Homo sapiens: one gene and its partners. The protein of the gene in region 3 purifies or fractionates together with the protein of the main gene of each other region. This does not show direct contact. Each region holds a gene or a part of one and is shown on either strand. Other genes may lie near its edges.

Region 1 (3,653 bases), on a different chromosome or scaffold from region 3:
CTTACTGCCTGCTGCTGTAAATACAAGTCCAGCTGCATTTCTTATATTTTGCTTCCTTTAAAAAGCCACACCTTACATTTGGGGCTACGCAGCACAGTGTCTCCCCTTTTTATTCCCCATGGCACAAATGTTGCTGTCAACAATGGACAATTCAGGGGCAGGGCAACTTATCTGAGAGCTTATGAAAACAGGTTTTCTTATCCTGAAATTGCAACTGCAGTGCATTTAGCCAGGACTTAAGTCCCTAAAGCTTTTAATGTTTTGGAAAACCTCTTCTTGAGCCAAGAGGGGTCTGGATCACCGCCAGCTTGGTGTGCCAGGCCTGTTAACGAGGAAGAACTGGTAGAGGGAACATTGAATTAGGCAGCAGGGAGGGAGGAAGAGCAGGTGAATTCCCACTCCGGAAATCAACTCTGCCTCCAAGCTCCGTTAACTGATAAGAAAATAACAACTCAGTGTTCATGACCCACGGTGTACATCCATGCTTTTACACACATGATCTCATTTCATCCTCTGAAGCTGAGAGTCTAAGCCACTGTTTCCACCCTTCAGGTCTCAACCCAGGAGTCTAGTCATAAAATCAGTGAGTTACAGTAGCATTTTTAAAAAATTACATTGACTAGAAAACATCAGTGAGTAGCACAGGTAGCAACACTATGCATTCAGTGAGCCCAGTGTGTACTGGGTTACACTGTAAAATGTATAACTGTTCTTGCAGGAGTTGAAAAATTGTCATAAACAATGAGTGTTTATAGGCAGAGGTGGTACTATCCCCACTTTAGAGATGTGAAAACTGAGGCTCAGAGAAGGGATTTGCCTCGGATTAAGCCTAAAACAGTAGAGCCAGGTCCCCGCCAGGACAGATCTGATGCTTTTCTCTTGGGCTGTCAATGTGAATAGTTCCCACAGACATCCCTGGAGCATCATCCACTCCCCGTTGCTCCACCCAGAATAATACCCGAGAGGCTGGCAAGTCTGCTGTCCCTTCCAATCCAGCTATTGAGCGTGACCTGCTGAAAAGAGCTACAATGACAACCTGATCCATCTTCCCTCTGCTACCAGCATGTCCACAAACCCCCAAATCCCTTCAGAGAAAAGCACATGCTCAGGCCAAGTGACACCAAGCAGACAATGGTGACACAGCTCCAATGTGAGCAGAACTTGTGCTACACACTCAATTGAGAGCACCCACCTCGGCTGGCAAAATACCACCAGCCATATAAGATTAACTTGGAAATGTGTCTAGTTTTGTAGCTTTACCGCAGAGCTCGGTATTCTGGGAATACAGATTCCTGGGCTTTATTCTTGAAGAAAAACATCTCCAGGGGCTGGGAGCCCAGGAATCCATTTTACACATATCTCCTTAAGGTGAAGAAACTCCATCACTGACCCATCTTTTAAAAACTCTCTCTCTGGACCCCATATCACTCCCCTCTCCACTCACAGCCAGAATTTTCCATCTCCCCTGCTCCTCCCATTCTCCTCCCTCCTTCCATTGCTCATCCCTCTGAAATCTGCCCTCCCCACAACCACCACAAAAAAGGCTCTTGGTGAAGGCTCAACAATGACCTCCTATAGATAAACCCTACAGGCACTTCCAGTTCTCATCTTGTTTGGCCTCTTGAACTGGATGCGACACTTGGTTTCCCTCCTACCTCTCTAGCAATCATTCCTTTCTTCTTTGTAAACCCTCCTCTCCCCATTCTTTCAATGTTGAAGTTCCACAGCTCACTCAGTCTACCCTCTCTTCCTACCCTATATGGTCCCCCAGCCAACTTCACCCACTCTCCTGAACAGCACCCCTAAATTAACATCTCCAGATCAGACCTCTCTTCTAAGCAACACATCTTTACGTCCTGCTCACTCAGCAGTTGAACTGGAGTCAAGTACAGTTCTAAAATGTTAAAAGCCTAATTCTCATACAAATAGGTATTGAGCATATTTCAAAGTTTTACTTAACTCGCTAATAAGAGACCCTAAAAAAGAGGATATAATCCTGATATAAGATTGCTACATTAGATACCAACAGGTTAATGTCCTTCAGGGCAATAATCTTTGTGCTTCTCTTCTTTACCAAACAGAAATAATTTGCATCCTACTTAACTTTACAAAGTATGGCCCATAAAAAATAATAAACAGAGTTACATCCCCTAGAACACAGCTGGTCCTTAGGTGGTTTCTTATACAATACTCCAGTATGATACTAAAATGTCACAAAATCATCTTTTATTTCCAAGTGTTATATAATTTTTTTCCACTGTAGTCTACGAATTTGGATGGAGAAAAATGACATCTTTATCTTCACTAACCTCTAACTGAAATTTAGCCTTTCCTGTATTATGAATGTATTTATAAATGTATAAATGCTTTCTACATTTATGAATGTAGATAACAAATTACAGTAGTAATTAGGGTAGCAGTGTCTGTGACTTTGCCACCAACAGAAATCATATTTTCTTATCACATTACAAGATATCCTGAAACACTATTTATGCTCATCACAACTTAAAATTATAGAAGTTATCAAGCTTGTACCTTTGATCTTTTTATATGATGCATTAATAAACATAAATATTATTTTATCACAACCTTGTTGTTATATTTTGATAACTGTATTTCAATAAAACTGCTTTCTTTGTAATTCTATGCATTTTACTTTATACATTTAAAAACATTATTCTAAGAAAGACCCAGAGGTTCTCAGAGAAGGCTTTCCTGACTCCTTGAATTAGGTTAGGGATCCCTGTTATACATTCTCTTACCACATTATATTAACACTTTCTCTTTCCAGCACTTACTACCTGAATTAAATAATTAATCAGTGGCTGTCCCACTAGGCCATGAGAGAAAGAGATGGTGTCTGTCTTATTTATGGTTATCCCCAATGCCTTAGCATGAGGCCTGGCTCATAAAAGATTCTCAAGGAAATATCCATTTGGGAAAAAAAAGAAGTATCTGTTGAATGAATGAACATCTGTGGCACATGTAGGATGCTGATGTTGGTCCACCTTCCTTTGAAATAGGGGCATGTACTAATACTCTGCCCAGGACCCAGTAAGACTAGACCCTGTGATGAGAACAAACCCACTCGTTCCTCAAGACCCTTCCCTACTTGGCCCAAACAACAGAGCTTTCCTACCAGGCCCACATCTGGGCTCAGATACTGGATCACCTTTATGTTTAAGCCCCAGTTTACAACCCTCAACCTTGATTTTCATCAACATCTTCCAACAAGGATTAAAGGACCTGCTCACGACTTCCAGAAATCTGCCTGCGCCAAGGGGTTGGAGGAACTGTAGGATTCTTTGCAGGGAATGGACACTCCACCCTTGCGCCCCCGCAACTCTAGTGAGCTGGAAACTCTGAAGCCAGACACAGGCCCACCATCACACCATCTAGGAATGGAATGTGCATCAGACTGGGGCCTCAGTATGACTTTGAGGAATAAAGGCTCTTTTAACCCCACACTCCATGAGTGTCTTCAACCCCCCAATGTAAGATCACAAAGCTAATTATTTAGAAGTGGTTGCAAACTGGTATGTGGAAAGAGGCCCTGCTGATGTAGGGTGGCAATAGGGGACAGTGAACTGGAGCTCCTTGGGGGAAGGATACAGTCAGCATGTACCTGGCTGGCCACCCCTGTCCAATGCCAA
Region 2 (3,653 bases), on a different chromosome or scaffold from region 3:
CTGTATTGTGAGAGCAGAGGGAAACATGGCTTGAGAGTTTTTCTGAAATGGTGTCAAATGACAATGTTGAATTATTGAGTCTTACTAATTATAGTTCTATAATGTAGCTTATGAAAACCAAACCAAGAAAACTACAGTCCAGTTGTCCTTGATTGGATAACTAGTTATTAATTTCTTTCTTCTCAAAATCTAATTACTTTATTTCTAATTATGAAACACTAAGAATATTCAGTAATGTGAAGGGAATTATATAACAGCCACCCTTTCACATCACCCATATTTGAAAGATAATACCCTTTTGCCCTATATACTTCAAATCAAAACTTTTTAGGGAAATAAAACATAATAAAGCCCACGATCTCCATTTTTTCTCCCCTCTCTTCCCGGTAACCAATTGTCCTAATGGTGATAATTCATTCTCATGCGTGATACTTTTCCTACAGTATATTTATGAATAAAATGTATATTTTTGGTTGTTATTTATTTAGCATCAAAATGTATGTTTTTTGGTTGTTATTTAGAATCAAAATGCTATGTCTTTTTACATAGCATTATGTCTTTGAGATTTTTCAAGTTTTGTATTTCTATTTTTAAATAAAAATAAATATATAAAAAATATAAATATATATAAATAAATATATAAAAAATAAATAAATAAAAATAAAAATAAAAATGTCTCTCTTTGTTGCCCAGACTGGAGTGTAGTGGCATGATCATAGCTTACTGCAGCCTTGAATTCTTGGGTTCAAGTGATCCTCCTTTCAGTCTTCTGAGTAGCTGGGACTACAGGTGCATGCCACCATGCCCGGCTAATTAAAAAAATTTTTTTGTAGAGACGGGGTCTCCCTATGTTGCTCATGCTGGTCTCATACTCCTGGCCTCAAGCTATGACCATGCCTCGACCTCTCAAAGTGCTGGGATTACAGGCCTGAGCCACCATGCGGGTCTGGAGATTTATTATATTGATAAATTACAGGTGCAGCCTGTTCATCGAACTGTTGTGTAATATTCTTTTTATGAATGTATTTGTTTTCTAGGGCTGCCATAACATTACCAGATACTGGGTGACTTAAAGCAACACAGTGCCTCATAGTTCTGGAGGCCAGGAGTCCAAATTGAAAGTGTCAGCAGGGCTCTGCTCTTTCTGAAACCTGTAAAGGAGAGCCCTTCCTTGCCTATTCCAGCGTCTGGTGGGGGGCCAGCAATCCTTGGCTTGCAGGTGCATCCTTCCCATCTCCACCTCCATCTTCACACGGCCTTCTCTTCTGTGCGTCTGTTGTGTCTTTGTCCACGTTTTCCCCTCCTTAGAAGGACACCAGTCATTGGATTTATGGTCTACTGTACTCCAGTATGACCTCATCTTAACTACAGGACATCTGCAAGGACCCTGTGTCTAGTTAAGGTCACATGCACGGGGAGTGGGGGATAGGACTTAAACATGTATTTTGGGGGAATACAATTCAACCTACATCAATCAATAAATTACAGTTTATTCATTCTCCTGTTGATGGTCAATTAGATTGGTTCCAGGTGTTGTCATCATATTAGTGGTGCCAAGAACATTTTTCCATAATCACTGCATGTGCCTGTGTGGGCATGTGCAAATTTCTCTCTCTCTCTCTCTTTTTTTTAGATAGGGTCTCACTCTTAACACCAAGCCTGGAGTGCAGTGGTGCAGTCTTGACCTCCTGGGCTCAAGCAATCCTTCCACCTCAGCCTCCTGAGTAGCTGGGACCACAGGTGCACACACCACCATGCCTGGCTAATTTTTCTGCTTTTTTTTTTTTTTGGAGAGATGGGGTTTTACCATGTTGCCCAGGATGGTCTCGAACTCCTGGGCTCAAATGATCCCCCCGGCCTTGGCCTCCCAAAGTGCTGGGATTACAGGCATGAGCCACCATGTCCCACCACATGTGACATGAATTTCTCTAGGGAAACATCTAGTGGTGGGATATCTAGGGTGCGGGGCATCTGCTTCTTTAACTTTGCTAGACTCCTTCCAGGGTTTGTATCATTTCACATGCCCTCCCATTTCCCTACAAGTGTACCATCATCTCTGTGTTAACAGACTTTTGCCAATCTGCAAGATGGAAAATAGTATTTCATTCTTGTTTTTATTATAGTTTCCTTAAGAACAGTGAGGTTGAATATCTGTTCATATGTTTATGGGCCATTCAGGTGTACTTTTTTGTAAATTGCCCATTCATATGAATTTTTCTATTGGGTTGTCTTTTTCTTGGTGACTTATAAGAATTCTTTATATATTTTATCTAGACACTAAGTCCTCTGTTCCTAAAATAATACCTTCTCCTAGTCTATCTTGTTTTCTCACTTTGTTTATGGAGACTTTTATCTTGATATTAATGTTAATCATTATCTTATTAATCTTTCATCTTAGTTACTATCTTATTAATGCAATTTTAAGAGCTTTTTGTCATGGAAAATCTCAAGCATATATAAAAGTAGAGAGATTAGTACACAGGACACTCCAGCTGCACCACCATCAGCACGTGGACACCTTGTCCACCCTACCCCACATGGAGCTATTTTGGGTTTTTGTTTGTTTGTTTTTTGAGATGGAGTCTTGCTCTGTCGCCCAGGCTGGAGTGCAGTGGCGCGATCTCGTCTGACTGCAGCCTTTGCCTCCTGGATTCCAGTGATTCTCATGCCTCAGCCTCCGGAGTAGCTGGGATTACAGGCGCTCACCACCATGCCTGGCTAATTTTTGTATTTTTAGTAGAAACGGGGTTTTGCCATGTTGGCCAGGCTGCTCTCGAACTCCTGACCTCAGGTGATCCACCAGCCTTGGCCTCCCAGAGTGCTGGGATTACAGGTGTGAGCCACCGCACTCAGCCCAAATGGGGCTATTCTGAAGTAAATCCCAGACCTCTGGTCATGTCATCTGTGGGTACATCATGATATCATGATGCATCTATGAAAGACAAGGACTCAAAAACACATGGCTGCAATGCCATCATCTTCCCCTGCCAAAATTCACAATAATTTGCAATTTCATCAAATATCCACTTAGTATTCAGTTTTCTGCAGTTGTCTTTCCTTTTTTTTTAAATTGGTTACCATGAAATGGGATTTATAATCCTTTTCTTTATGGTTTATGTTTTTTGGGTCAAATTTAAGAAATTCTGCCTTATTCCAAAGTACAAGAAAAAAGTATTCAGTATTTCCTTCTGATTGTTGAAATTTCGCCTTTCCTACTTAGATTTCTAGCCACGCACTGGGGTATGTGGGGATCCATGGTGATTTGTTTTCTTACCTGGGTAGCTCAGTGCTGCAGCCGTGCCCCATTGATGGCCAGTCCCTCCTCCCCCCACAGGTCCCTCCTGCCCCCTCTCATGACTACAGAGCCCATTGTATCTGACCCCCTCTCTCTGCCTGCTCTGCGCCTGCTCTTCGCCTGTTCCCACTGCTGGACCTGGCTGGAGGAAACAGCCATACGTACTTCTCGCTGGTCCCCTGTTTTCCTGCTTATCCTCTCCCCAGCCCTCGTCCCGCCTCTCACCCTGAGCTGCTGACTCTGCTTCTCAGTTCTGTGAGCAAACAGATGCCAACAGGGAGCATCCACACTCTCCCGCCCCACACCCACCACCACCTGTGTCTGTGTCCACGTCCTCAGCCTCCCTTGGGTGCGTGAG
Region 3 (3,451 bases):
CCTGAGCAACATGGCAAAACGCTGTCTCTATCAAAAGAAGATGCAAAAATTAGCCGGGCATGGTGGCGTGTGCCTGTAGTCCCAGCTACTTGGAAGGCTGAGGTGGCAAGATCGCTTGAGCCCAGGAGGTGGAGGTTGCAGTGAGCCGTGTTACACCACTACACTTCAGCCTGGGTGACAGGAGAAGACCCTGTCTCAAAAGAAAAACAAACTAAGGGAAACCAATGCCCCAGGCTGCAGAGAGCAGGTCGGCCTTGGAACATCCTCCCGCGCTGGGGCCTGTGGCAGCCACAGAAACCCGGGTGTGAATTCACAACATGTGGGGGACCCAGGGACAGCGAGTGCCAAGGGGGGAAGGGGGCAAGTTCACATACAGCCACCTTGGGATCTAGCGCTTTGATGCCTGCAGAGAAGTCCCACCCAGAGACACCGCCCACCCGCCCACGGTGGGGCAGTGTCAGCCGCGTCTGAGCTCCTGACCCGCAACGGCCAGCCGGGAGGGCCCAGGCTGTGGGGTTGCTTTTTAATGTTCTTATTTATTTAAATATGAAAAAACATTTCATCTCTTCCCAGTTCATCTGAAAGGAGGTCCCCTGGGTAAACATAGGAAAGCAGTTCTGCAGGCTCATGAAGGATGCTCGGCTGGAGGTCGGGGGGAGCATGGCTGCTTTCCCCAGCATAGCCCCCATGTTCCCCACCCTCTTTGTGCCCCGGATCTGCGATCCTGAGTCCAGAAGAGCTCAGCAGGAAGTGGGAACTGAGAAGCTGTTGGGAGCCAGGAGGGCCCTGGACCCTCTGTTCTCTGCCCCAGGGCTTCAGCCACCCTGCAAGCCCCTCCGGACAAGGCAACGTCAGCCCAGGTAGAAAACTTAAGAGTCCCTCCTAGAAAACCAGTGATGTGCTGGCCCTTTCAGGGACACAGGCCCCTTCAGCTTCACCGGAGATGAGAAGGTGCCACCCGCAACAGGGCTGCTGGTCACAGCTCAGTGCGCGATGCCTTGGCCACAATCACCAGCTTGGACAGCTCAGCTTTGAATGCCCCGGGCCTGTGAGCCACTGCAAGAAAGAAACACATGGTTGGGCCCTCAACATTGAAAATTCTCAGAAGTCCGGAGGATTTGGGGTGGGGCCCATGGTGGGGGCTAAGCAGGCAAGGGGAGCAGTCTCCAAAGCAGACTCCCATGTGAAAAGGCCCCAGGCACTGAAAGTCTTACGGGTGACAGACAGGAAAACAGTGATGTGGAGGGTAAGGTCGGTGGGGCTAACATAGATGGCAGGCAGCAGGAAGCCACAGAAAGACCTGAGGTGGGAAGAACCCTGGTCATTTGTGCCATGTTGTCAAGAAGAGATGCAGAAAGGGGCCAGAAGAAGCCCAGGAAGGAGATGATCCCGGCCTGAACAGGATGCAGGGTGGGTCAGGCTGCAAGACCTCCTGCTCAGTGGGTGAACCTGTCTGAGGCCCTCATGACACTTCTCCAGCAGGGTCAGAACTCTGGCTTCCACTGCTTCACCCAAGTCTCCCGGCCCTACCTGCTGTGTCCACTCCCTTGGCTCCCACCCTTGCCCCAGCTCGGCGCCTCCGATTCCTCTTTCTGCTTAGCATTGGCGCCATGCAGCTGAATGTGGCTTGAGGACACCGGTGCTGCTCAGGCAACCGAAGAAGGACCCTGATGTTTCCCAGTGACCCCTGCAGCCTCCCCTCGGCATGCCACAGTCCCAACCTCAAAGCCCTGATGGTTTCTACTTTGTTTTATTTCATTTATTTATTTTTTAAAATTTATTATTTTTTTTGAGATGAGAGTCTTCCTCTGTTGCCTAGGCTGGAGTGCAGTGGTGCAGTCTCGACTCACTGCAACCTCCTGCTCCTAAGTTCAAGAGATTCTCCTGTCTCTGCCTCCTGAGTAGCTGGGATTACAAGCATGTGCCACCATCCTTGGCTAATTTTGGTATTTTTAGTAGAGAAGGGGTTTCACCATGTTGGCTAGGCTGGTCTGGAACTCCTGGCCTCCCAAAGTGCTGGGATTACAGGTGTGAGCCACCATGCCCAGCCCTGTTTATTGTTTTTGAGACAGAGTCTTACTCTGATGCCCAGGCTGGAGTGCAGTGGTGCGATCATAGCTCAATGCAGCCTCGACCTCCTGGGCTCAAATAATCCTCCCACCTCAGCCTCCTAAGTAGCTGAGACTACAGGTACACACCACCATGCCCGGCTAATTTTTTTTCTTTTTGAGACAGAATCTTGCTGTCTTCCAGGCTAGAGTGCAGTGGCATGATCTCAGCTCACTGCAACCTCCACCTCCCAGGTTCCAGCAATTCTCCTGAATAGCTGGGATTACAGGTGCGCACCACCACGCCTGGCTAATTTTTTGCATTTTTAGTAGAGATGGGGTTTCATTATGTTGGCCAGCTGGTCTGGAACTCCTGACCTCAAGTGTTCCGCCCGCCTCGTCCTCCCAAAGTGCTGGGATTACAGGCGTGAGCCACCGCACCCAGCCTGATTTTTAAAAAAATTTTGTAGAGACAGGGTCTCGCTATGTTGCCCAGGCTGGTCTTGACCTCCTGGGCTCCAATGATCCTCCCACCTTAGCCTCCTGAGCAGCTGCGGTAACAGGCATGAGCCACCGCGCCCAGCTAAGATAAAGTTCTAGTGGCACACAGCCACACCCACGCATGGACATACTGTCTGCAGCAGCTTTGTGCCACAATGGCACAGCTCTAGACAGAACCCACAGTGCCACAAAGCTGAAGATATTGACGAGGTGGCCTTTATAGAATCAGTTTGTGGATGCCTGGTCTACAGTCTCCAGGACCCCTATGGCTGACCCCCCTCTCCAAACTGCCCCGATTGCCCACCCTTGGATGGGGGTGGCGTCACCTCTACCCCATCCCCATCTTTCCGTACCTGCTGTTTTGGTCACTTCAAATTCCTCAGTTTTCAGAGGGACATCACTTTCCCTTTCAAATGCGGCTTTAGACTGAAAAAGAATGAGTGGAAACTTTACCAGGGCCAGTTCAATGCTCATCATTAGGAAAACGATTGAGTTTGCTTTCCAGAGAAGCACAGACTAAAGCTTTCTACTTTTACTAGAGATGGAGAGGAGACTTTTTTGTTTTTGAGCCAGGACCTCACTCTACTGTCCAGGCTGGAATGCAGCAGTGCAATCATAGCTCACTGCAGCTTCAAAGTCCTGGACTCAAGTGATCCTCCTGCTGCGGCCTCCTGAGTAGGTGGGACTATGGGTGCATGCCAACACGCCTGGCTATTTTTTTTTTACTTTTGGTAGATATAGGGTCTTGCTATGTTGCCTAGGCTGGAATCAAATTCCTGGCCTCCAGCAATCCTCCTGCCTCAGCCTCCCAAATTGCTGGGATTACTGGCGTGAACCGCCGCGCCTGGCCTGGAGAAGTCTTTTCTGGCATATACAAGAGAAGCCAGCAGCAACAGGTTACC

Evidence for each region.
Region 1: the proteins of MYDGF (region 3) and PDIA5 purify together in Homo sapiens (affinity purification with mass spectrometry; one large-scale study listed by BioGRID and IntAct). This does not show direct contact.
Region 2: the proteins of MYDGF (region 3) and CMBL fractionate together in Homo sapiens (co-fractionation; one large-scale study listed by BioGRID). This does not show direct contact.

Annotation. Positions count from the first base shown.
Region 1 is NC_000003.12:123,073,447-123,077,099, reverse strand, and holds part of PDIA5 (protein disulfide-isomerase A5 precursor), read right to left. Parts: intron 1-3,653.
Region 2 is NC_000005.10:10,297,813-10,301,465, reverse strand, and holds part of CMBL (carboxymethylenebutenolidase homolog), read left to right. Parts: intron 1-3,653. UniProt on the Homo sapiens protein: Cysteine hydrolase. Can convert the prodrug olmesartan medoxomil into its pharmacologically active metabolite olmerstatan, an angiotensin receptor blocker, in liver and intestine. May also activate beta-lactam antibiotics faropenem medoxomil and lenampicillin.
Region 3 is NC_000019.10:4,657,029-4,660,479, forward strand, and holds the end of MYDGF (myeloid-derived growth factor precursor), read right to left. Parts: intron 2,976-3,451; coding exon 2,903-2,975; intron 1,057-2,902; coding exon 977-1,056; 3' UTR 517-976; downstream 1-516. UniProt on the Homo sapiens protein: Bone marrow-derived monocyte and paracrine-acting protein that promotes cardiac myocyte survival and adaptive angiogenesis for cardiac protection and/or repair after myocardial infarction (MI).